Regions from separate parts of the Homo sapiens genome. Here all the other regions are linked to region 1. Evidence: fine-mapped QTL for protein levels in blood plasma. A gene starts in region 1. Each other region holds a variant in brackets. All regions are shown on one strand. Distances are from middle to middle.

Region 1 (8,186 bases):
ATCTCCCAGTCATCAGGCACTGGAGTAAGGGACCCACTTGAGAAGGCAATCTGTCCTTTAGCAGAGCTTGCGTGCTGTGCGAGGAGACCCGCTGCTCTCTTCAGAGCCAGCAGACAGGAAAGGTTAAGTCTGCTGAAGCTTGGCCCACAGCTGCCCCTTCCCCCAGGTGCTCTGTCCCAGGGAGATGGGAGTTTATCTATAAGCCCCTGACTGAGGCTGCTGCCTTTCTTTCAGAGATGTCCTCCCCAGAGAGGAGGAATCCGGAGGGGCAGTCTGGTTATAGCGGCTTTGTCACACTGCAGTGGGTTCCACCTGTTTCAGGTATTTTGAGACATCTTCCTGAAGAATTAACTACTTTATTATTATAAAATACTCCTTTTCTTCTCAAGTAACATTTTTGCTTTAAAGTCAAATATGTCTGATATTAGTATCATTGCAGACAAAACCAGTCCCCCAAAAGATGGAGTCTTTCCCTATTTGGTGTCACAAAGCCAATACATGAAACAGAAAGTGAGTGTCAAGCACTGCAGGATTTATTTGATGGCCATGGAATTGAGAAGCAGGAACATGACTCACAAATTGGCTTCTCTGCTAGTGAGGGGTAAAGTGGTTAAAATATAGGGTTTCTCCAATGAAAGGACTGGGCATTAAAAACAAAGGGAGGAATATTCATGTCTTTTCTGGAAATAGGTTGTGAACTTCCTAGGAACCAGAGTGTGCTTCCTTTTTGTACCTTTATTGCTTCTTCTGGCCATTGTCATGGTGATTGTCAGCTGTCATTGTGCTGGTAGGAGTGTCATTTAGCATGGAAATGAGATTATAATGAACCAGATGTCTTTCTGAGGTCCTTTGATGGTGATCTTGATTCTAACCAGTATCAGCTGGACTAGTTATAAAGGAAACTTTTTACCACAGGCATTCTGTTTCTTAAAGATAAGCAGAGTTCAGACAGGGTAGAAATTCAGCAATCTCATATAGGCATTACACTGGGTAACAGTACAGAAACCAGTGTTCTTATGGTTTCTGTTTGCAAGATATGTCTATTTCCTTCCTTTTATTTTCAAGCTATTTGTGTCTTAATTTAACTCATGTCTCTCATACATAGCATACAGTTGAATCTTGTTTTCATTGTTGTTACTTTAATCCAGGATGACAATTTGTTTCCTTTGTTATCAAATCACATTTAACTCTATTATTGATATGATTGATGTTATGGGCTGAACTGTGTCCCTGCACAATTAATTTGTGAAAGTCCTAAGAGTAATATTTCAGAATTTAACTTTATTGAGAGTTAGGATATTTAAAGAGATGATTAAGTATGCCTGTATATTTAATTTACATAATTGATCATTCACTTATTCATTCATCCAAGGAGTAGCATTTAACAAACTTTGCAGGCTGGCCTCCAAAAATGTACCACTAATGCACTCAGGACCGCAGACCTGACAATTCTCCTTAAGTTATCATTTCAGTCATGACTTCAAATTGCATAACCAAGAACAGATGTGTTCTCCTCAGACCCCAACTATGCGAATTCTTCTGGAATATTAAATACTCCAGTCAGACTGGATCAACAATTTAATTATTTGTGTAATTCACACTAGGTTCATGCTAACATGTGTTGTGGATGAAATCTTAATCTTTTTATCTTGTCATAAACAAGGCCACCACATGTTCATAAGCCTGACATACATAAAATGTGAGTGGGGTTTTAACAAGTGGATGGGCCATGGCAAGCTCTGGAGTGTGACAATCATTCCCACCCCAACCACCCAAGCATGGGCTGTAGAAAGAGCAAATGCAGAAGACAGAACACTGGATAAAAATAAGTTTGTTTTTATTTTTCAGGGCTCTAGAGACTGAGACAGGTGAAGGTACTGAAGATCAGCGATGCAAACTCATTAGGGAGGAGATGGTCTGAACTGAGTTGGAGACATAGTCTAGTTTAATTTTTGACTTCATAGTAATTGCAGGACCAGTTCTAGACATCCATTTTTCAGCTTCCTCTAGTTTTTGAACTTGCAAACAAAGGAGAACTTCTTCTCACAAGATTCATCCTTCCATTTCTTGAATCCTATGGTACAATGAGAAGTGTCAGACATAGAGGATCAGAAGGAGTGTAGCCCCTCCTCAACCTAGGACTCAGAACAAAAAACTAGAGGAAATACTTCTTTATTTTCCAGATAAGGAGCTTACCTTTCCTCTATCCCAGTCCCCATGTTCATCCCCAGAGATAAGTGGGAAGGAAATGGCAACAGGTGGATAGATTGTCTGCCTCTCACCTGAGCATGAAGTCAGGCTTGCACAGTAGCCAGCATTAGCACTGCTCGGGGATCCAGTGTCCCAGGACTTGTAGGAGACCAGGGACCCACTACTCCAGTGCCAGCGGCGGTTCTAGATGGAGAAGGGCCAGAACAGGGGCCATGGTCACTCAAAAATCAATAGAATAACCAGGCCTGTGTGCACACTCAGAAACAGGCCAAGTTATAGCAGAAAGAATAAACATTGTTGTCACCATGAATATCATATCATTTCCTCTGCTTTTGCTCTAAGCTTCTCCTTCTCTAGAATGTCCGAATTCCTCCTCCTCTTCCAGCAAATAATAAGTGTTCAGAATTTGATACAGAGACCCATAAAAGCCCATTAAAGAGAGTGGTTTCTGATTTTTTTCCTGAATCTCAGAACTCTCATATCCAGCATAACATTGGCTGTAGAGTAGTCGTTGATATATTATTTAGTTTATAGTGTTAAACTAAATAATATACTGTACAGTTTTATACACTTGTATAAAATGTATAACAAATGCCAGCAGTAGATTCTCCTCCACTACTCATTTTCTATATAGTCTACAGAGGGACCTCTTCCAAGACAGACAATAGCAAAATAGGGAAAAAGTTGTACATAAAGATGCATTTCTAGAAGTAGACACAATGAGTGGGTGCATGAATTCCCAGAGCCCAGAAAATTCAGCCTTCAGCTCATGTCTCTAACTACCTACACTGAACTTCACAACTCATACATTATAGGATCTATAAAGAGGTTGCTTTTATTTAAACAAACAAAAAGATAAAAGTTGGTGATTGCGGTGCCAGACCTTAAACGTCCCTCTTACCTCTCAAAAATGTTTATAAGGAGATAGAGGTGGCTGCAGACTGACCTTTTTTGGGTCATGGAGGCCAATCCAGACATTGCTGTCATCAGTGCTACTCTCCTTAATCAGTGAGGCCACGAAGGCACCCTCCGCCTGGGTGAGCACAGACACCAGGTTGCCTGAATTCATGTTCTGGCAATAGAGCTGTTGGAGAAGAAAATGGAGCACTCAGTGGAGAAGGAAGGTGTGAGGGATATACTGAGACCTTCCAGAGGATGTAACAGAAAAAGGACAGCACAGAAATGTCCCTGATGATGCTGTCACTGACCACCAGCATCTCTGTGCTGGGAATGTGTCAAATGATGGGATAAAGTAGATTGGGAAGTTTGGGACCAGTGGTGGAATAGGGAAGGGATCAATCTTATCTCATTGCAGCCACAGAACACACTGCAAATTAGCAGCTGCCTCTACCTTCATAAGCCTCCCTTCCCCTGCTGCTCTCCTCACTCACATCTGCATCAACCCAGGTCTCAGGGTCTTCATTAAAGTAGTAGCAGTAGGAGCGATAGGCATTGGTGCCTTCTGGGCAGCTGATTCGGGGATTAGGCAGCTCTGTCTGGGACTCCTGGCCTGGGGAAAAAAAAAAGGAGATAATTAAGAAAGAATCGCAGGGCAAGGAAAAGGCTGGAAGGTGAATTAGGGGCTTCTTGGTGTCCTTTATAAGAACATATGGATACAGTGAATACTGGGGCGATTGCTCACTTCTGCCCTCCTGCATCCTATCTCTTTTCTCTCTAGTTTCCTCTGCTCAAGACAAGAGCTCACAATGAATAGGCTAAATAAATGAGTCCTCGTTTTCCTTTAATTCTGAGGCTGAGGCTTCTGCCTTTAAAGACCCAGGCTTCCTCCTTTCTCAAGTTTCTCTCGGTTTCCCTGCACACGTTTGCCTTAGCTCTCCATCCTAGCAATGACTACATAAAAACATCCCCCAAACTGCCATCGCATATAGATTCAATCAGATAAACTCAACCACAATGGTCACCTATAAGTGGTCCTATTAAATTCTGTCTCAAACCCATGAATGAGGTGAGGGTGTTTTTGAATGGGATAAAATCAGCCATAATGATCACTGAACAACATAAAAAAACCCTGATGTTGACTCTGCTTTTTTTCAAGTGAACCTTATACATGAGGATGGAGGGAAGAATTCAGAGTTGGGGTTGTGGGAAGTGTGGGGGAAAATCTCACCTTGGCTCAGAGACAGGAACATCAGGGAGGAGATCAGCATGAAGAACGAGTTGGTCTGAGCCATGCTTAGCGGCAGTGAATCTCTTGCTTAAGGAGCAAATCAGCAATCTCTGTAGGAGAACACAGGGAAGAGGGTTTGAAGAAGAGAGCAGAGCACCTGTTATCTTTCTAACATCCTCTCCTCTCTGAATTCCTGTGAGCCGAAAGGTCCACTGAGATAGCTACACTCCCAGATATTTCTCTTTTGGTTTGGGGATAACAGAGGCCAAATTACCCGAAATCAGCTTTGGTCTTGCTTAAGTTTCATTACTACTGGGATCTTTTATTCAGAAAATCACCCTGTATCTACCTCAAAATGAAAAGAGAAAATCCCACGTTAGACATGCTCTTCTCCTGTAATGCCCCTTTACCTGTTGGTAAGTGCCTTGTCCACTTGAGGTGGCTTGTCAGGTCAGACAGAGTAGGAGCTTTATATCAGGGTCTGAGAGAGAACTACATGATATAAACAATGGGTGGAGCAAGGAGTAAGGATCAGAAGGCCTACAGAGGGCACTGACAGTAAGAGATTCTGGCATCAGGAATAGCTTATTCCTGGCACACATTAGGAGTGGTCACAAATGACATCAACTTACCACAAACAGGTTGGCAAACTGTCCAAGTTGATGTTGAGCTTTGCTCTTCCTCTGCAGCATCCAGGTGTCCAGTTCCCATGGCCTTTAGCAGTCCTAGAAAGAGCAGAAGAGTAGATTTCTTTGTGCTAGGTAAATGTGGGATGATCCTTTCTTTGGTTTAGGCATGGGTAGGGGTAGGGGAAGAGTCAACTGAGTCCAAATGATTAAGCCCAATTAGCTGGTGGCTTTAAGTCATTTCTCCATTCCCTTTCAGGTTCAGGAACCTCTCAAGACCTACTTCAGAAGGCAAGGTGTATTAGTCCTTTTCATACTGCTATAAAGATAATACCAGAGACTGGGTAACTTAAAAAGGAAAGAGGTTTAATTGACTCATAGTTTAATTGACTCACAGACTTTCCTGAGGATGGGGAGGCCTCAGGAAACTTACAATCATGGAGACGAAGGGGAAGCAAAGCATGTCTTACATGGTGGCAGGTGAGCAAGAGAGAGTGGAGAGGGAAGAGCCCTTTATAAAACCATCAGATCTTGTGAGAATGCACTCACTATCAAGAGAACAGCATGGGGGAAACTACTCCCGTGATCCAATCACCTCCCACTAGGTTCCTCAATCCACACATGGGGATTATGAGGATTACAATTTGAGATGAGATTTGGGTGGGGACACAGAGCCACACCACATCACAAGGTTTAGTAGTTACGTAAATTTAAGCCAGCGTTTCCAGCAAGGTTTCAGCATAAGTAGCTAGCATGATACAGATGTTCTCAAAGTCCAAGCAGGTGGGAACTGCAGGGAGCTGATGCCTAAGTAAGCTCAAAGTAATGGAATATGAAGTTGTTGGTTTGAAGTCAATTGTCTGTTGTTGTGAAGTTACAGATAGTGATGTGAAATTAAAAGCTTACTGAAATTCCCATTAAATACCCATTCAGAATCAGGGAACAAGAGCAAATCTGGAATTTAAAATTCAGTTGAAAAACTAACCAAAATGTTCACAGAAATAAGGATGGCTATATCAATTGGGATAAATGACAAAATAATATATTTTGAAATACTAACAGGAGTTAAATTAAATAAACTAAATATATTTATATAAACATGAGCTCATTTCAAAAGCATATATAAACAAAATGAATTTTAAAAGTTGCAAAAATTTACAAACTAATAATATTTATATGTGCTTTAAAAAAGCTAATTATTTATATTTTTTTATCTATTCACATGTAGTTTAAAGTAAAATAAATCCGTAATAAAACACTATACAAAAAATTTTCATACTCATTAGAAATGCAAAATGTTTGTTTCTCAGTTCTGCAAGGAAAAGTCAGCATTCAGACAAAAAGTTCTCTCAGCGAGGCAATTTTTAATTTCTGCAGAAAGGATGCCCCTCACAGATGGAACAATGGCAAGGGCATACACAGAATGAAGAGACACCAGAATATTTATTCCTTACGCATGAGGTCCCTATTGCTGTGTCCTGTCTCCATTGGCTGGAGCCAGACCTCACAATCTAAATTAAAACCTGATTGGCTAATAATTTAAAACTTTTTAAAATAGGTACAAAAATAATAATATTTCCAAATAAGGAAGGGGCACAGGCTGTGAACTAGGACATACCTATGAGCACGTCCAACACAAATATCTTGGTTAAGGTACAAGGACATGGAATGTACTACGTGCCTGTGACTGTTCAACAGCTATATAAGATAGGGCTTAACAAAGAGTTATTAGCGTAAAGCGAGGGGGCTTGAAGGAAGTTCGTCTTTAAAATAAACTATTATTTCTAACACTTATGATTTATTCTTTAACAAGAAGGGAAACTTTGAACAGGGATCTTTTTACCGTTTACATTACTGTTTTCCTGGAGAATATATAATTTTGTCCCTTTATAATAATCATTTTAAACATAGATGACAGAGGTTAATACTGTTTAGTCTAACAGGTTCAAAAGTGTTTGTCAAACTACTCTAATTTATTTCAGCATTTTCTAAAAATAATTTTCTTTAAAGCTTACAACCAGAGAAAGATTTGAGTTTTTTTTTCTGTAAGAATTTCAATCATATTATTCAGAGTTAGAAAGGGATGAAGAAAAGAGAAATCTAGTATGCTTGTTACCATAAGTTTATCTTGCCAAAATCAAACGAGCAATTATTAGTAGTAGTAGTAGTATTATCATTATTTTTGAGACAGGGTCTCTCTTTGTCACCTAGGCTAGAGTGCAATGGCTCAAACAAGGCTCACATCAGTCTTGAGCCCCTGGGCTCAACTGTTCTCCCGCCTCAGCCTCCTGAGTAGCTGGGAGTATAGGCGCACACCTCCACGCCAGGCTAATTTTTGTATTTTCAGTAGAGACAGTGTTTTACTATGTTGCCCAAGCTGGTCTCAAACTCCTGGGCTCAAGCCATCTGCCTGCCTCAGCCTCCCAAAGTGCTGGTATTATGGGCAGGAGCCACTCTGTTGGGCCAATTTTTAAAAATTAATACAAAAAAATTATTTGTGGTAATTTTTTAAATGAGAGTTTTTCTTTACATCAAGAAGACTTCAACTAGACAATGACTTTTCAGGTACAAAAGATCTAATACTTTCAAATATATAATAAAACACATTGTGGCTAGCACGATATGAAAGCATTTTAAAACAAATAACAGTTGACGCAACTCTCATAAAATGTTTATTGCCCCAATAGCTGTATGCCCGTTTAGATAACTAACCGTTATTGCTCACATAGGTTACTGACCAAATTCCACAGGCCAGGTAGTAAAATTGAGGACATTTACTGGCAGCCACTTTGGTTCCAAAATGATGCCTTTGTCAAGGAAGCCATATTTCCCAATCCTTTAAGATTTATCTCCTTGTCCTCAGGATTCTGAAGGTCCTGTCCCCTGAACTAGTTTTACAAAGTTCTAAGAAGCTGATTTTAGGCCTTTCCTATCTATTTCTTCTGTTAGTCTTCACATAGGTGGAAAGGGGTAAACTGGATAACTAGTGTTAGTATATCCCCAAATGGGGGCAATTTCTTGATACGCCTCAATAAAGCTTAGAGAGTTTCAAGACTATGGCTTATTTTTAGCGCTATTGGCCATCTTCTATCTGCTGTTCCCTGTTTTCCACCTTTTAACAGATTTTAGACTTATTATGGAGACAGAATCTCTCTTTTGTTTAAAACTTTTGGCAGGCATGTGAATAACAGCCTGTCTGCAAACTTCAGACTGGAAAGGAA
Region 2 (8,186 bases), 54 kb after region 1:
GTTTTGGGCTGATGATTGGATAGGGAGGGGATTAGTCTCATCTCATATCAGCCACTGAACACACTGGAGAGTGGCAGCTTCCCCTCCCTTCGTGAGCCTCCCTTCCCACACTGCTCTCCTCACTCACATCTGCATAAACCCAGGTCTCATGCTCTTCATTAAAGTAGTAGCAGTGGGAGCCTTAGGCACTGGTGCCTTCTGGGCAGCTGATCTGGGCCTTGGGCAACTCAGCATGGGCCTCCTGTCCTGGGAAAAGAGAGACAATTAAGAAAGACCCTCAGGGCAAGGTAAAGGCTAAAATATGAGGTAGGAGCTTCTGAGGATTCTTTATAGGAATAGAAGGATCCTATAGGTCACGAAGCGATTGGTCACTTCTGCCCTTCTGCATCTTACCTATAGGCTCTCAAGATGTCTTTGCTCAAGACAAGAGCACACAATGAATAGGCTCATGAAAAGTGTCCCCATTGTCCCTTTTACTTATGGCTTTTTCTTCCTTGAAGGACTGAGGCTTCTTTCTCAAGCCTGTCCAGTTTCTCTACACACAAAGCTCCCCTCAGTTCCCCATTCCACTAATGACTGTCTACAAACAGACATCCTCAACCCCCCCATCATGAGTAGTGTTAATATGACAAACCAATGCCAACTGCAGTGGTCACTGATAAAGGGTTATGCTAAGTTCCATCTCTAACTCCTTAGGGAGGTCAGGATGTTTTTGAATGGGATGAGATCAGCAATAAATATCACTGAACAACACAAGACAACCCCTGAACTTGACTCTGCTTTTTCTCAAGTGAACTCATATGCATGAGGATAGAGTGAGGGCTTCAGGGCTGGGGTTGTGGGAGGTATGTGTGGGGAAAACAATCTCACCTTGGCTCAGAGACAGGAACATCAGGCAGGAGATCAGCATGAAGCATGAGTTGGTCTGAGCCATGCTGAGCAGCAGTGAATCTCTTGCTTAAGGAGCAAATCAGCAATCTCTATAGGAAAACACAGGGAAGAGGGTTTGAGAGAATGAGAGCAGAGCACCTATTACCTTCCTTATTTCCTCCTCTGAATTCCTGACAGCAGGAAGGTCCTCTGAGATATCTACATTCCCATATATTTCTCTTGAGAATCTGGAAACTATACAGGCTCAGTAATCCAAAATAACTTTGGCTTCTACTGAGGCTTCGTTACTGCTGACACCTCTTGGACAGATGACGCTGTATCTTCCCCAAGATTTTAGATTACAGCCCTTGTGAAAGGTACCCTTCTCCTGTAATGCCCACTTACTTGTTGGCTGAATCTGAGGTGGCTTTTCAGGCTAGGTAATGGTAGAGATGTATAACAGGATCTGAGAGAAGAGCCACAGTATTTAAGCCGGGGTGGAGCAAGGAGTGAGAGACAGCGGTTCTACAGAGGGCATTGACAGTAAGAGGTTCTGGCATCAAGAGGAGCTCTTCCTGGCATATCCTGGGAATGGCCACAGATGAAGTCCCTTCCCCTAAACTGGAAACCTTTCCAAGTTCAAGGCAGACCTTGCCCTTGCTCAGCAGAAACCAGATGTCCTATCCTGCAGCCCTGAAGATCCAGCAAGCAGCTGAGACCTTCCAGGAATCTTGGCAGCTGTTATGCAGGCTAGGCCAGCAGTAGTAGAGGCAGAGAGAGTGAGAACCTGGAGTAGGGCCGTCTTTGAGACACAGGGAGAAGGGAGCTGCTGAATGGTTATGGAGCATCCCTGTTTGGAGCAGTGGGGCAAATAGAGTTTAAAATATTGGTAACTTAATTGACTTTTCCAATACTGTACTATGGAAGAAAGCAGAGCTAAAACTCAATTCTTCTTTTTTTCTCCTTCGTAGTCTAATATACTGTTGTTGTTGCTGTTGTTGTTGTTGTTTGTTTGTTTTGGTCTCTGAGCACCCTCCACTTGCAGGTTCTGTCAGTCCATGTATGGTCAGTCCTTCTGCACTGTCCATTTCCTGACAAGACCACTGCCTGCATCACCCTGTTATAACCTTTATGTACTTCTCAAACCATTCATGCATTTCAATTTGGACTGTCCCACAAGTAGCTGAAAAGCCTATGCTTTCCTTCCTCTGTTGAGCACACTTTTAAAACCATCAAGATCACTCTCTATCTTTTGCAAAAGGAGCTCCAGGTTCTTTCTGAGAATCTCCCTTACTGGATTTGCTGGCTTGCCTTCTGATCCTACCATCCAGTAGAATTTCCTATTGGTTCTTTTCAACATTGGCATTTTCTCTACTTAGCCAATTAAAGAACACAATAGGGCCAGACCTAAGAATTTTCCTTCATGTTGTCTCCTTAGCATAGATTAAAATAGCCTTATAATGCACCAGAAGATAGGTTAAGATCTGTTCATTAAAATTTTAGAGGAACCAGGTCTTTGATCTTTGGAGAAGGTAATTATAACTCACAAGAGGATTCCAGACTAATCCCCATATATGTTTTTCCCCTGTAAAGTCAGTTTATTAGTTTAACTTGGCTGTGTGACAAACTTTCACTCTCATTCAGATTATTGACTGAATTCAGTTCCTTGTAGTTGTAGAGTTGTAGCACTGAGGTTCCCACTTCCTTGCTGGCTATCAGCTTAGGTGCCAGTCTCAGCTAGATTCCTTGGTACAAGAACCTCTCCATCTTCTAAGCTAGCAACAGGACAGTGAATTCTTTTTGGCCTTTGAATTTCTTGACTTCCCCTTATGCTGCCAGTCAGAGAAAATTATCTGCTTTCAAATGGCTCACGTGATTAGACTGGGCCCCTCCAGGAATCTCCCAAAACCTGCTTTCTTATTGATACAAGGTCAATGAATTAGTAACCTTCATTGTATCTTCAAGAATCCCTTTTTCCATGTAATATAACATAGTTGTGGTTTTTCAATCTCATCCTATTTACAGGTTCTGCTCACATTCATAGGGCACACATTACATAACATCAAGGGTCATGGGGGTCATAATTCTGCATAGCACAGCATGGCAAATAATTCATGCTCCTCTGCGATGAACCTCACTCAAACTTGTATAAGGGGAACAATTACTCTATTTCCCACATGAAAGAATCAAAAGGCTTCATACCTAAGACATTTCCTCTGGACTTTCATGTTCATGCCCTTTCAGCTAATGTCCCCCTCCTCCAACTAATCCCCACTTGCATAAT[A/G]CTTCATCCCCTAACGATTTATCTTCATATCTTTTGATTAAATTCAAATTACTCAATTTATGACTGCTAATCCTCAGGAACAGTCCCTCTATCCTTGATGGTGGCTGAAGTACCCTTGCTAAAGCCCCATAAAACATTTCACCTTCCTGCCCCAAGTCAGAATGGCCCTTGGGACTCTTCTTAGGCCAAGAACATTTTCTTTTCTTTTTTTCTTTTTTTTTTTTTTTTTGAGACGGAGTTTTGCTCTGTCGCCCAGGCTGGAGTGCTCACTGCAAGCTCCGCCTCCCGGGTTCACTCCATTCTTCTGCCTCAGCCTCCCGAGTAGCTGGGACGACAGGCACCTGCCACCACGCCCGGCTAATTTTTTGTGTTTTTAGTAGAGACGGGGTTTCACCGTGTTAGTCAGGATGGTCTCGATCTCCTGATCTCGTGATCCACCCGCCTCGGCCACCCAAAGTGCTGGGATTACAGGCGTGAGTCACCGCGCCCAGCCAGAACATTTTCAAATAAAGTCTTATGCTACTGACGCTTTGTAGCTATCCCATCTAGGTTTGTGTAAGTACAGTCTTTGATGTTCACGTGAAAATGAAATCACCTAAGGATGCGTTTTTTAGAACATATCCCCATAGTTAAATAACCTATAATTGTATTCTCTGGCACTTTATACTCAAAATGTTCAAAGATTCCAACTATTAAATGGTCAGCATTTTAAAAGTTGTTACGAAGATGGCTTTAGAAATATAGATAAATTCTTAAAGAAACAAACAAAAATCCTAAAATTTATTTTTGTAAGTGTTGTTGAGGATAGGCTAATAAAAACTCTGACTGTATAACCCCAAATTTTAGTAGTGCTCTGGTTGATTTTCTTCCATACTTATTTTCTTACAAGATTCCCGAATCTGTGATCCTCTTGAACTCCACAGTATTTGATGTTTGCAAATGTTTGGAAGGACATTTGTTTTACCTTCAGGTTTTCTTTGGGGAGACATTCTTAGAAAGCTGAGCTGTTCCTGGGCCGGGTACAGTGGCTCACACCTGTAATCCCAGGACTTTGGGAGGCCGAGGTGGGCGGATCATGAGGTCAGGAGTTCGAGACCAGCCTGGCCAATATGGCAAAACCCCATCTCTACTGAAAATACAAAAATTAGCCAGGCACAGTGGCAGGCACCTGTAATCCCAGCTACTTGGGAGGCTGAGGCAGGAGAATCGCTTCAACCCGGGAGGCAGAGGTTGCAGTGAGCTGAGATGTGCCACTGCATTCCAGCTGGGGTGACAGAGCAAGACTCCATTTCAAAAAAAAAAAAGAGAGAGAGAAAAAGAAAGCTGAGGTTGTTGTTTTCTTCCAATGTGCTGCAAGCAAAAATCATTTAACTTCATGTCAAGAATTATAAAGGTTCTGAGATTTTTACCCTACTTGCAAGGTAAGGTAGACTTCCACAGTTTGAGATTGGCAAAAGACAAAGGACTTTTATTACTCATGGTACAGTAAGCAGAACAAGCAGCAGCACACTCACCCTAGGTTCCCTTACTCTAAGTCTCATGGAGGTGACATCGATGGGCCAGATAGATGCCTTCACATTGAGTGGGTTATGTTACAGGGGAGAAATGGCCCCTGTAATTACATTATGAGAGTTTAGGGAACGAACCTGAATCACTTATAATGGGCAACAAGCAAGCCTACCCTTTGCTTCAGAGGGAGACTTCTTTATTGTACCTGGGAGTAAGTATGCCTGTCTTCACTATGAATGGAAACTTTCAAGACTATAAGCAAACCTACCCTTTGCTCTGGAGGAAGATGCTGTCTCTACTTTTAAAGGTTTTTCACAGCTGGATGCGGTGGCTCACGCCTGTAATCCCAACACTTTGGGAGGCCGAGGCAGGTGGATCATGAGGTCAGGAGTTCAAGACCAGCCTGGCCAAGATGGTGAAACCCCGTCTCTACTAAAAATACAAAAATTACAGCGTGCCTGTAATCCCAGCTACTTGAGAGGCTGAGGCAGGAGAATCGCTTGAACCTGGGGGGCGGAGGTTGCAGTGAGCCGAGATCGCGCCACTGCACTCCAGCCTGCATAACAAAGCAAGACTCCATCTCAAAAAAACAAACAAAAAAAAAAAAGGTTTTTCACTACCCAAACATTCTTGAAAGATAGTCTAGAAAAAATGGCAGTAAGTGCCTCTGCTTGCAAGAAGTGGAGAAACGTGAGACAATTGTCTCTCAACTCTTCTCTGAACATTATTTTCTCTCTCCATAAAACAAGAGGGCTCTTCACACTTAGAGTAGTCAATGACTTTTAGAAAAAGATGATTTGTGTGGATTTAATTGTCTGAGGAAAGGTCTGTGGGAAGTTGGCAGCAGAGAGATGATAAGCTTTTGAAAATCTTTAAAATGATGGAATTGAAGAAGGAATGCACCAAAAGCATTATACAACTGGAAAACTTTTCTCATCCCTATGATAAATTTCAAGTAGCACCTAAGACATTACATGCACATTCTACAGACAGCATCTCTGGCTAACATTTTCTTGATAGAATACCTCTTGGTTTCTAAATACCTCAACTCCACACAATGTTTATGTTCCTCAGTGCAACATTTTTTCAGCCAAAGCTGAAATGTTTTATATATGCATCTCCAAATATCAATGTAAATATTTTAATACAATTATAACTGGACTAAATCTCTAGTTACATTTCAAGTACAATGAATGAAGAAACAGAATCATGTGTACTTTGAAAAGAATACTGAGAGTCAATAAAGGGGTCCTGGTCATGGGTCATACGTGTTGCTGGTGTAAAAAGAGACTCATTGGACCACGGCATTTCATACCAAAAAAAATGGTTTTTGAGAAACACATTATTCATCTTCCAATAAGGGAGCTAAACTTTTAAAGAATTTTTCATCTCAGCATGACATTTTGCCATTTATATATAGATATTTAGATTTTACATAGTAGTGAGATCATGCAGTATTTGTCTTTCTGTGCTTGGATTATTTCACTTAATATAACATCCTCCAGGTTAATTCATGTTGTCACAAATGACAGGACTTCCTCTATTTTTAAGGCTGAATAACACTCCACTTTGTATGTATATACTTTTCTTTATCCATTCATCTGTTGATTGACACCGAATTTGACTCCATCTCAACTATTGTAAGGTTTAAGTGAACATGGGAGTGAAGATATCACTTGACATATGGATGTCGTTTCTCTTTTTTTGAGAAGGAGTCTCGCTCTGTTGCCCAGGCTGGAGTGCAGTGGCGCAATCTCGGCTCACTGCAAGCTCCGCCTCCAGGGTTCACACCATTCTCCCGCCTCAGCCTCCCGAGTAGCTGGGACTACAGGTGCCCGCCACCACGCCCTGGTAATTTTTTGGGCTTTTAGTAGAGACGGGGTTTCACCATGTTAGCCAGGATGGTCTCGATCTCTTGACCTCACGATCCGCCCGCCTCGGCCTCCCAAAGTGCTGGGATTGGATGTCATTTCTTTTGGATATCTCCCCAGAAATGGAATCACCGGATTATACAGTAATTCTTTTCTAATCTTTTGAGGAATCTCCATAGTGTTTTGAATAATTGCTATAGCAATTTACATTACCACCAGTACTATACAAATATCCCCTTTCCCCTGCATTCTTGCCAACAACTGTTACCTTTTATTTTTAATTACAGCCATTGTAAACGGTATGAGGTGAGATGACACTGAGGTTTTAATTTGAATTTTCCTAGTGATAACTGATGTTAAGCCGTTTTCCTCATATACCTCTAGATATTTGTATCTTCTTTGGAGAAAAGTTTGTTCAGGTCCTTTGACCATTTTTTAAATTGGGGTATTTTTTTGCCAGTTATTAAGTTCCTCATACAGTTTGAATATTAACCCCTTATCATATGTATGCTTTGTAAATATTTTCTCCCATTCTGTAGGTAGTCCCTTCACTCTAATATTTGTTCCCTTTCCTGTGCAGAAGTTTTTATTTTGATACAATCTCATTTGTCTCTTTCTGCTTTTTTACCCTTGCGTTTTTTCTATTATAACCAAAAAATGATTTTCCAGTTGATTTTGTCATACAGTCATAACATGGACAATGTTGTGACATTTCCCCCTAAGTTTTCTTGTAGTAGTTTTAGAGTTCCCAGTCTTATGTTCAAGTCTTTACCCATTTTGAGTTTATTTTTCTGTACAGTATGAGATAAGCGTCTAATTTTATTATTTTATGTATGCACGTTAAGCTTTCACAACACCATTTATTGAAGAAACTGTTTATCAACATTATCTATTCTTGGCATCTTTAAAAACTCCATTGACTGTAAATATGTGAATTTATTTCTGGGCTATTTTGCTCCATTGGTCTATGGATTTGTTTTTATGCTACTACAATGCTGTCTTGATTAATATAGTTTTGTAGTATATTTTGAAATCAGGTTGTATGATGTTTCCAGCATTATTCTTTTGGCTCAAGATTGCTGTGAATATCTGGGGTCTTTTGTGGGTCTATCTCAATTTTAAGATTATTTTTCCTACTTTTGTGAAAAATGTTATTAGAAATTCAACAGGAATTGCATTGAAACTGTAGATTGCTTTGGGTAGTATGAAGACTTTAACAATATTAACTTATCCAGTCTATGAACATGGGATAAGTTTCATTTATTTGTGTTTTATTCAATTTCTTTGATACCAGTTTTATTATTTTTATTGCACTGATCTTTTACTTCTTTGGTTAAATTTATTCCTAAGTATTTTTGTAGTTACTGGAAATATGGTTGTTTTCTTGATTTCCTTTAGGAGAGTTTATGGTTAGTGTAAAAATGCTACTAATTTTTGTATGTTTATTTAGTAACCTGAAACCTTATCAAATTATTTTATTACTTCTAATAGTATTTTTTAATGTAGTCTGTAGGGTTTTCTAAATGTAAGATCATGTCATTCACAAAAAGAGAGAATGTAACTTCTTCCTTTCCAGTTTCAATGCTTTTGCTTGTTTCTCTTGTCTAATTGCTCTGGGTAGGACTTTGAGTGCTATGTTGAAGAGAAGTGGT
Region 3 (8,186 bases), 17 kb after region 1:
TGTAAGACTCAGGTTATGATTCATTCTGAGGAAAATTCCCCTCCAGCTGTGAAATCAAACAAATTATATGTTTCTAAAATATATGGTGGGACAGGCATAGGATAGACAATTCCATAACAAAAGAGCAACAGAAAATAAAAAGAATTAACAGGCTCCCACTAAGTCCAAACCCCCACCAAAAAAAAAAAAACAACAACAACAACATTAAATCCCGACATTTGAGAATTTTTTGTTTTGACTTCAAGTCCCACTATCAGCACAGACTGGGGCAGGGGTTAGGCCTCCATGGCTTTTCTGGGAGCAACCAATGCAGCAGCTCTCACAGGCTGGAATATTATCCCCAAAGTTCGCTGCAGCTGGGGCTTCCAACTGTTACTGGGAAGTGCAGGAATTTTTGATTAGTTTTAACTGGAGGAAGAATTCTGCCAAGCGATTGATTTAACCAAAAAAGAGAATGTATTGAAGGAAAATAGAGAACAGAGAGTTTATTTCCTCTTTTTGGCTTATATTTAGCATGCCTGTTTTAGGTATTCTCTGGGGTGTAAAATTTTTCAAACCTCCCTTTTGTCATGAGTTCTTCCCTCCTGCTTATGTTTAGCTATTTGCCTAGCAACCCCCCAACTAATGTTTCATTAGGAATTGTCCTAGTGGGTAATCTCTGTGGTGGCCTTGCACCTGTGTCAGTTCTCTCTTTGAGCCCTGAGGCTCCCTGACACATTTTTTGAAATCTAGCTCCTACAGTCAGCAATCCTGGAGAATTAACATGCTATGGACACCATCAAAACTTGTGCCCTGTGCCTTCTGGAGTGATGGCCAGCACCACATCTGGGCTTCGTTAAGCCATTTCTGAGATGGCTTAAAAGAGCTGCTTAGGAATGCAGGAATCAGAGATTTGAGGAAGCCCTGAGTAGTGAGTAACAAGGTCCCAAGGGCTCTCAAGAGTCCTCTTTTGATCTAATTCTGTTCTCCAGGCATTGGCATTCTGTCTGGGTTTGTGATGGGAGCTAATCTCCTTATCAAAATTTGGCCACACCCTAGGTTTTTCTTTTTTGAATATGCCTTTTCTTTATTTAAAACACAGCCAGACTAAGAATTTTCCAAATCTTTACTTTCTACTTCCTTTTCAATGTACATTTCATATTTAATTTTTTCCCCTTTTCTCAAGTTTTACTATTGACAGTTTAAAAAAGTCATGCAGCATCCTTAACAATTTGCTACTTAGATATTTCTTCCACCAGATATCCTAACTTGTGGTTCTTAAATTCTGCCTTTCGTAAAATGTTGGGACACAAAGACAATTCAGCCATGTTTGTTGCCTCTTGGTAAAAAGGATAACCCTCGGGTCATTGTGCAATACCATGTTCTACAATTCCATCTGGGATCTCATCAGAATTACCTCTACCATTCATATTGCTATTATTCACTTGAAAACCACTTAAGTAATCTCACTGCTGATTTAGGTTTAGCCTATAGCTCTCCTCTTCTTGAGCCCTCACCAGCATAGCCCTTAACACTCTGTTAATAGCAATCTAGGCTTTTTTCTAGCCTGATCCTCTAAACTCTTCTGCCCTCTGCCCATTACTCAGTTCCAAATCTGACACACATTTTTAGGTGTTTTTTATAGTAACAACCCCACTTCTGGTACAAATTTCTATCTTAGTCCATTTTCTACAACTAGAAGAAAACACTTGAGACTGGATAATTTATAATAAACAGAAATTTATTTTCTGACAGTTCCAGAGACTTAAAAGTTCATTATCAAGAAGCTGGAATCTTTCAAGGGCCTTCCTGCTGTTTCATGACATGGCAAAAGGCTGAAGGGCAAAGAAGCAAAAGGGAATGAAACTAGCCATTTTATAATGGTATTAACTTCACCTATGAGAACAGAGCCTTCATGGCTCAATCACTTCTTAAAGGTCCATGTAAAAATGATTACAATGTTCAATTAAATGTCGACATGAGTTTAGAGAAGATAAACTTGATAATTTTTCCTTGATTTTCTTACTATCTTCATTCTTCTGAAACCTGGTTAATATTCATCTCCTCAATTGGCATAATGACATTTGTTTAAAGGTTATATGGTTATCTGTCTTACACTTTTTGTCATTTCATAGCCAGAAATACGTTATCGGTTTAATTTAGATTTGTGAATTTACCTTGCCTTGGAGACATGTCGTTGATCCTCTGAGGAAAGGATCCTTTCACTTGAGAGAAAATCCAGTTTGGGTTTCCAAATTCCACTTCTATTCCTCAGCCTCATATGTTACAGCAATTTATATTCTGCTAGTTTTGTGCCTTCTGTATTTAAAAAGGAGAATGTTGGCCAGGCACGGTGGCTTATGCCTGTAATCCCAGCACTTTGGGAGGCAGAGGCGGGCAGATCACGAGGTCAGGAGATCGAGACCATCCTGGTTAACATGGTGAGACCCCGTCTCTACTAAAAATACAAAAAATTAGCCGGTTGTGGTGGTGGGCACCTGTAGTCCCATCTACTCGGGAGGCTGAGGCAGGAGAATGGCCTGAACCCAGGAGGCGGAGCTTGCAGTGAGCTGAGATAGCACCCCTACACTCCAGCCGGGGCGACAGAGTGAGACTCCGTCTCAAAAAAAAAATGTATGTAATAATAATAATAGTAATAAAATGTTCTTTATTGTGATACATTGACACATCATGTAAATTCTTGCTTATGTCATTAGTGAGGAAGAGGTGATAGATACCAGGTTGGCATTCTTCTAGTTTTAGTTCATTTTGTGTGCTATAACAGAATGAAATAACTGAGATTGGGTAATTTTTAATGAGCACAAATTTATTTTTCTAATTTTTTGAGACGGGGAAGTCCAAGATCAAGTTGTCAGATATTGATGAGATAATTTTTGCTACATTGTTGCATATACACAGAATAAAAAGAAAAATCTATCACAGTATTTGCCTGGAGAATTTATAACTTTTTAAATAAAACTAATAATATTAAACAAAGATGACAAACGTTGACATTATTTATTCTACTTGGCAGGTTCATAGGTGTTTGTTATGTTAATCCAACTTATTTCTGCATTTAGTAAAAATATTTATGCTATCTTACAAGCTTATAGCCAGGTTAAGATATCTTTTTTCTTATAAATAAGAAAGTCAATCATATTCTTCAGACTTCA[T/G]AAAAGATACAGTAGGTAGGAGTCCAGTATACTTGGTACCATAATAAGTGTATCTTGCAAAAAAAATGAACAAGTAATTAATAGTTTAAAATTAAAAAAATTCTTTGTGGCATAATTTTTTTAAATATGAGAGTTCTTATTTACTTCAAGAAGACTTAAAGCAAGCAAAAACATTCCAGATATAAAAGATCTAATACTTTAAAATACATAATGAAATACACTGTAACTGGCATGATATAAAACAGAGAGAGATTCAGTTCAATACTGTATCAACAATTGACACAGTATTCCCATAAAAATCTTTATTGCTACCAGTATCTGGAAACACATTGAGATGTTATTAACTTTATTGCTTGCACATGTGACTGGCCAAATTCCGCGTGCAAGCTAATAAAACTGATACCTTTACCTGGCAGCTACTTTGTTCCAAAGTGATGCCTTTTGCATATAAACTGTATTTCCTATCTGTTCAAGGTTTATCTCATTGTCCTCCAGAAAACAAGGCCCTTCCTGTGACATAGTTTTACAAGATTCCAAGAAGCTCATTTCAGGTCTTTCCCATCATATTCCCTCCAGCAGTCTTCTTGTATATGGAAAGCAGTCTCCTGGAAATCTAGTGTTAATATGTCCTTAAGTGGGGAAACTTTCTGATAAGCCTCCAATAACGCCAAGAAAATTCCAAGGCTATGGCTGATTCTAGGTGCTGTTTGCCATTTTCCAAGAGGTATTCTCTGCTTTCCACCTTTGGAATTGAGATTTTAGACATATGAGAGAGAGATAATCTCCCACTTGTTTAAATCCTTGGCAGGCATGTAAATAATAGCCTGTCTGCAAACTTTAGACTGGAAAAGAAAGGAGCTGAACAAATAACAAATGCAGCAAGGACATTCCATGGTCTGCTGTGTTCTGCAGGTGTAAGGAAACCTACTTATAAGTTAGCCTATTCTGCTTCACAAGAAACCTCTGATTTTTAAACATTAATTTTTGTCACATGCTGTCTATGCCAGGCACAATTCTAAATGCTTGCCTAATTAGAAACCATTTAATCCCCATGAAAACCTAATAATGTAGGTGCTGCTACGAACCATATTTGACACATAAAAAAAATGAAGGCAAGAGAAAGGCTAGGTAACTCCTGCAAGATTAAAACAGCTGCTAACACAGGAATAGAAAACCAAATATTGCATGATCTCACTTAAAAGTGTGAGCCAAACATCAAGTACATATGGACACAAAGAAAGGAACAACAGACACAGGGCCTACTTGAAGATAGAAGGTGGAAGGAAAGTAAGGATTGAAAATCTACCTATCAGATACTATGCATATTACCTGGGTGATGAAACAATCCATACATCAAACTCCTGCAACACACAATTTGCCTGTATAACAAACGTGCACATGTACCCCTGAACCGAAAATAAAATTTTAAAAAACCAAACAGCTACTATGTGTTGGCACTAGATTCAGACATGCAGTTTAGCTCCAGGGCCATTCCCTGAGTTCCCAAAATACTGATTTTCCTCTACTTATTTCCACATGCAACTCATCCAGCTATCTGGATTCTGAATGATTTCAACACATAACCACCCATTGATTATGGTCAAGGACAGAGGCTCCACAAGAAGAGCTTAAAAAGTGAATAAATGTAAGACATCACCCAATTCTTAACCTGCAATTTAATTTGTCTTTTACACACACACTAGCACCACAAACCCGTGTGTGTGTGTGTGTGTGTGTGTGCACGCGTGTGTGTGCTCCTGAAAGGAGGAATTGTTCTTTAGAATCCTCATGGCCTGGTCACCACATAAAAGTCCCACCTCTTAACATTGTTCCAATGGCAATTAAATTTCAACATGAACTTTGGAGAAGACAAACATTCAAACTGCAGCATTCTAGCTGCCTAAAAATCATGTATTTCTCAGGTACAAAATGTTTCATTTCATCCCAAAAGCCCCAAAAGTCTTAGCTCATTATAGTATCCTCTTAAAAGTCTAAGGTCCAGATTATCATCTAAATATAATCAAAATCAGATACGTGTGAAAGTCAAGTATGATTCATTCTGAGGCACATGTTTCTCCAGCTGTGAAATCAAGTAAGTTATGTACTTCCACAATATAGTGATGGGACAGGCACAGGATGGACAGCCTCATTCCAAAAGAGAGAAATGGAAAATAAAAATAAATAATAAGTCTGTAATAAGTCTGTAATAAGCCCAATTCCCACCAAAGCAAATAACATTAAATCTTGAGGTTTGAGAATAATCGTCTTTGGCTCCAAGTCAAACCTTCTCTACATATTGGGGTGAGGGTTGGGCCCCCATGATTTTGCTGGATGCATCCCAGGAAGTAGCTATCAGAGGTTAGAGTCTCTTTTATGCAGCCCTCTACAGGTGGCATCTCACACTGCTGGATCTACAGTTAGGGTTTTGAAGAAAACCCACTCCCCAAAGTTCTACTAGTAATTGCCCTAGTGGACAAACTCTGTGGTGACCCTGTCCTTGTGTCAATTATTTGAGCCCCGAGTCTCTCTGAGGCATCTTTTGAAATCTATAATAGGCAAGGCTACAAAATTAGCAACCAGTGGGCACTGCCAAGATTTACATCCTGCACCTTCTGGAATGGTGGATGTAGCCACAAGTGAGATCCTTTTTTTTTTTTTTTTTTAATTATACTTTAAGTTTTAGGGTACATGTGCACAATGTGCAGGTTAGTTACATATGTATACATGTGCCATGCTGGTGCGCTGCACCCACTAACTCGTCATCTAGCATTAGGTATATCTCCCAATGCTATCCCTCCCCACTCCCCCCACCCCACAACAGGCCCCAGAGTGTGATGTTCCCCTTCCTGTGTCCATGTGATCTCATTGTTCAGTTCCCACCTATGAGTGAGAATATGTGGTGTTTGGTTTTTTGTTCTTGCGATAGTTTACTGAGAATGATGATTTCCAATTTCATCCATGTCCCTACAAAGGACATGAACTCATCATTTTTTATGGCTGCATAGTATTCCATGGTGTATATGTGCCACATTTTCTTAATCCAGTCTATCATCGTTGGACATTTGGGTTGGTTCCAAGTCTTTGCTATTGTGAATAATGCCACAATAAACATACGTGTGCATGTGTCTTTATAGCAGCATGATTTATATTCCTTTGGGTATATACCCAGTAATGGGATGGCTGGGTCAAATGGTATTTCTAGTTCTAGATCCCTGAGGAATCGCCACACTGACTTCCACAATGGTTGAACTAGTTTACAGTCCCACCAACAGTTTAAAAGTGTTCCTATTTCTCCACATCCTCTCCAGCACCTGTTGTTTCCTGACTTTTTAATGATTGCCATTCTAACTGGTGTGAGATGGTATCTCATTGTGGTTTTGATTTGCATTTCTCTGATGGCCAGTGATGGTGATCATATTTTCATGTGTTTTTTGGCTGCATAAATGTCTTCTTTTGAGAAGTGTCTGTTGATGTCCTTTGCCCACTTTTTGATGGGGTTGTTTGTTTTTTTCTTGTAAATTTGTTTGAGTTCATTGTAGATTCTGGATATTAGCCCTTTGTCAGATGAGTAGGTTGCAAAAATTTTCTCCCATTTTGTAGGTTGCCTGTTCACTCTGATGGTAGTTTCTTTTGCTGTGCAGAAGCTCTTTAGTTGAATTAGATCCCATTTGTCAATTTTGGCTTTGGTTGCCATTGCTTTTGGTGTTTTAGACATGAAGTCCTTGCCCATGCCTATGTCCTGAATGGTAATGCCTAGGTTTTCTTCTAGGGTTTTTATGGTTTTAGGTCTAACATTTAAGTCTTTAATCCATCTTGAATTGATTTTTGTATAAGGTGTAAGGAAGGGATCCAGTTTCAGCTTTCTACATATGGCTAGCCAGTTTTCCCAGCACCATTTATTAAACAGGGAATCCTTTCCCCATTGCTTGTTTTTCTCAGGTTTGTCAAAGATCAGATAGTTGTAGATATGCGGCGTTATTTCTGAGGGCTCTGTTCTGCTCCATTGATCTATATCTCTGTTTTGGTACCAGTACCATGCTGTTTTGGTTACTGTAGCCTTGTAGTATAGTTTGAAGTCAGGTAGCGTGATGCCTCCAGCTTTGTTCTTTTGGCTTAGGATTGACTTGGCGATGCAGGCTCTTTTTTGATTCATATGAACTTTAAAGTAGTTTTTTCCAATTCTGTGAAGAAAGGCATTGGTAGCTTGATGGGGATGGCATTGAATCTGTAAATTACCTTGGGCAGTATGGCCATTTTCACGATATTGATTCTTCCTACCCATGAGCATGGAATGTTCTTCCATTTGTTTGTATCCTCTTTTATTTCCTTGAGCAGTGGTTTGTAGTTCTCCTTGAAGAGGTCCTTCACATCCCTTGTAAGTTGGATTCCTAGGTATTTTATTCTCTTTGAAGCAATTGTGAATGGGAGTTCACTCATGATTTGGCTCTCTGTTTGTCTGTTGTTGGTGTATAAGAATGCTTGTGATTTTTGTACATTGATTTTGTATCCTGAGACTTTGCTGAAGTTGCTTATCAGCTTAAGGAGATTTTGGGCTGAGACAATGGGGTTTTCTAGATATACAATCATGTCGTCTGCAAACAGGGACAATTTGACTTCCTCTTTTCCTAATTGAATACCCTTTATTTCCTTCTCCTGCCTAATTGCCCTGGCCAGAACTTCCAACACTATGTTGAATAGGAGTGGTGAGAGAGGGCATCCCTGTCTTGTGCCAGTTTTCAAAGGGAATGCTTCCAGTTTTTGCCCATTCAGTATGATATTGGCTGTGGGTTTGTCACAGATAGCTCTTATTATTTTGAAATACGTCCCATCAATACCTAATTTATTGAGAGTTTTTAGCATGAAGAGTTGTTGAATTTTGTCAAAGGCTTTTTCTGCATCTATTGAGATAATCATGTGGTTTTTGTCTTTGGCTCTGTTTATATGCTGCATTACATTTATTGATTTGCGTATATTGAACCAGCCTTGCATCCCAGGGATGAAGCCCACTTGATCATCGTGGATAAGCTTTTTGAT

Which allele goes with the higher level. Positions count from the first base shown, and alleles are read on the strand shown. Strength reflects both the effect of a copy and how common the allele is.
For the plasma level of the protein whose gene starts at base 4,784 in region 1, allele A in region 2 goes with a higher level than allele G (moderate association).
In carriers of allele T in region 3, the plasma level of the protein whose gene starts at base 4,784 in region 1 tends to be lower than with G alone (moderate association).

The links. PIP is the posterior inclusion probability: the model's chance that the variant is causal. The UK Biobank Pharma Proteomics Project read protein levels with antibody pairs (Olink). The fine-mapping took linkage between variants from a reference panel, not from the people measured, so its PIPs are less certain.
Region 2: its variant is fine-mapped to the plasma level of the REG1B protein (UK Biobank, PIP above 0.99).
Region 3: its variant is fine-mapped to the plasma level of the REG1B protein (UK Biobank, PIP above 0.99).

What each region holds. Positions count from the first base shown.
Region 1 is chr2:79,083,210-79,091,395 of GRCh38, forward strand. It overlaps REG1B (regenerating family member 1 beta), which reads right to left and starts at 4,784. Exons shown (of 6, transcript NM_006507.4): 1 at 4,750-4,784; 2 at 4,340-4,449; 3 at 3,603-3,721; 4 at 3,158-3,295; 5 at 2,283-2,394; 6 at 1,814-2,074. The coding sequence starts at 4,403. The coding sequence ends at 2,007.
Region 2 is chr2:79,137,097-79,145,282 of GRCh38, forward strand. It overlaps the pseudogene REG1CP. Among named protein-coding and RNA genes, the nearest start is that of REG3A, 19 kb to the right of the region's middle. The variant A/G (reference allele first, on the strand shown) is at 3,155.
Region 3 is chr2:79,099,891-79,108,076 of GRCh38, forward strand. No RefSeq gene overlaps it. Among named protein-coding and RNA genes, the nearest start is that of REG1B, 16 kb to the left of the region's middle. The variant T/G (reference allele first, on the strand shown) is at 3,153.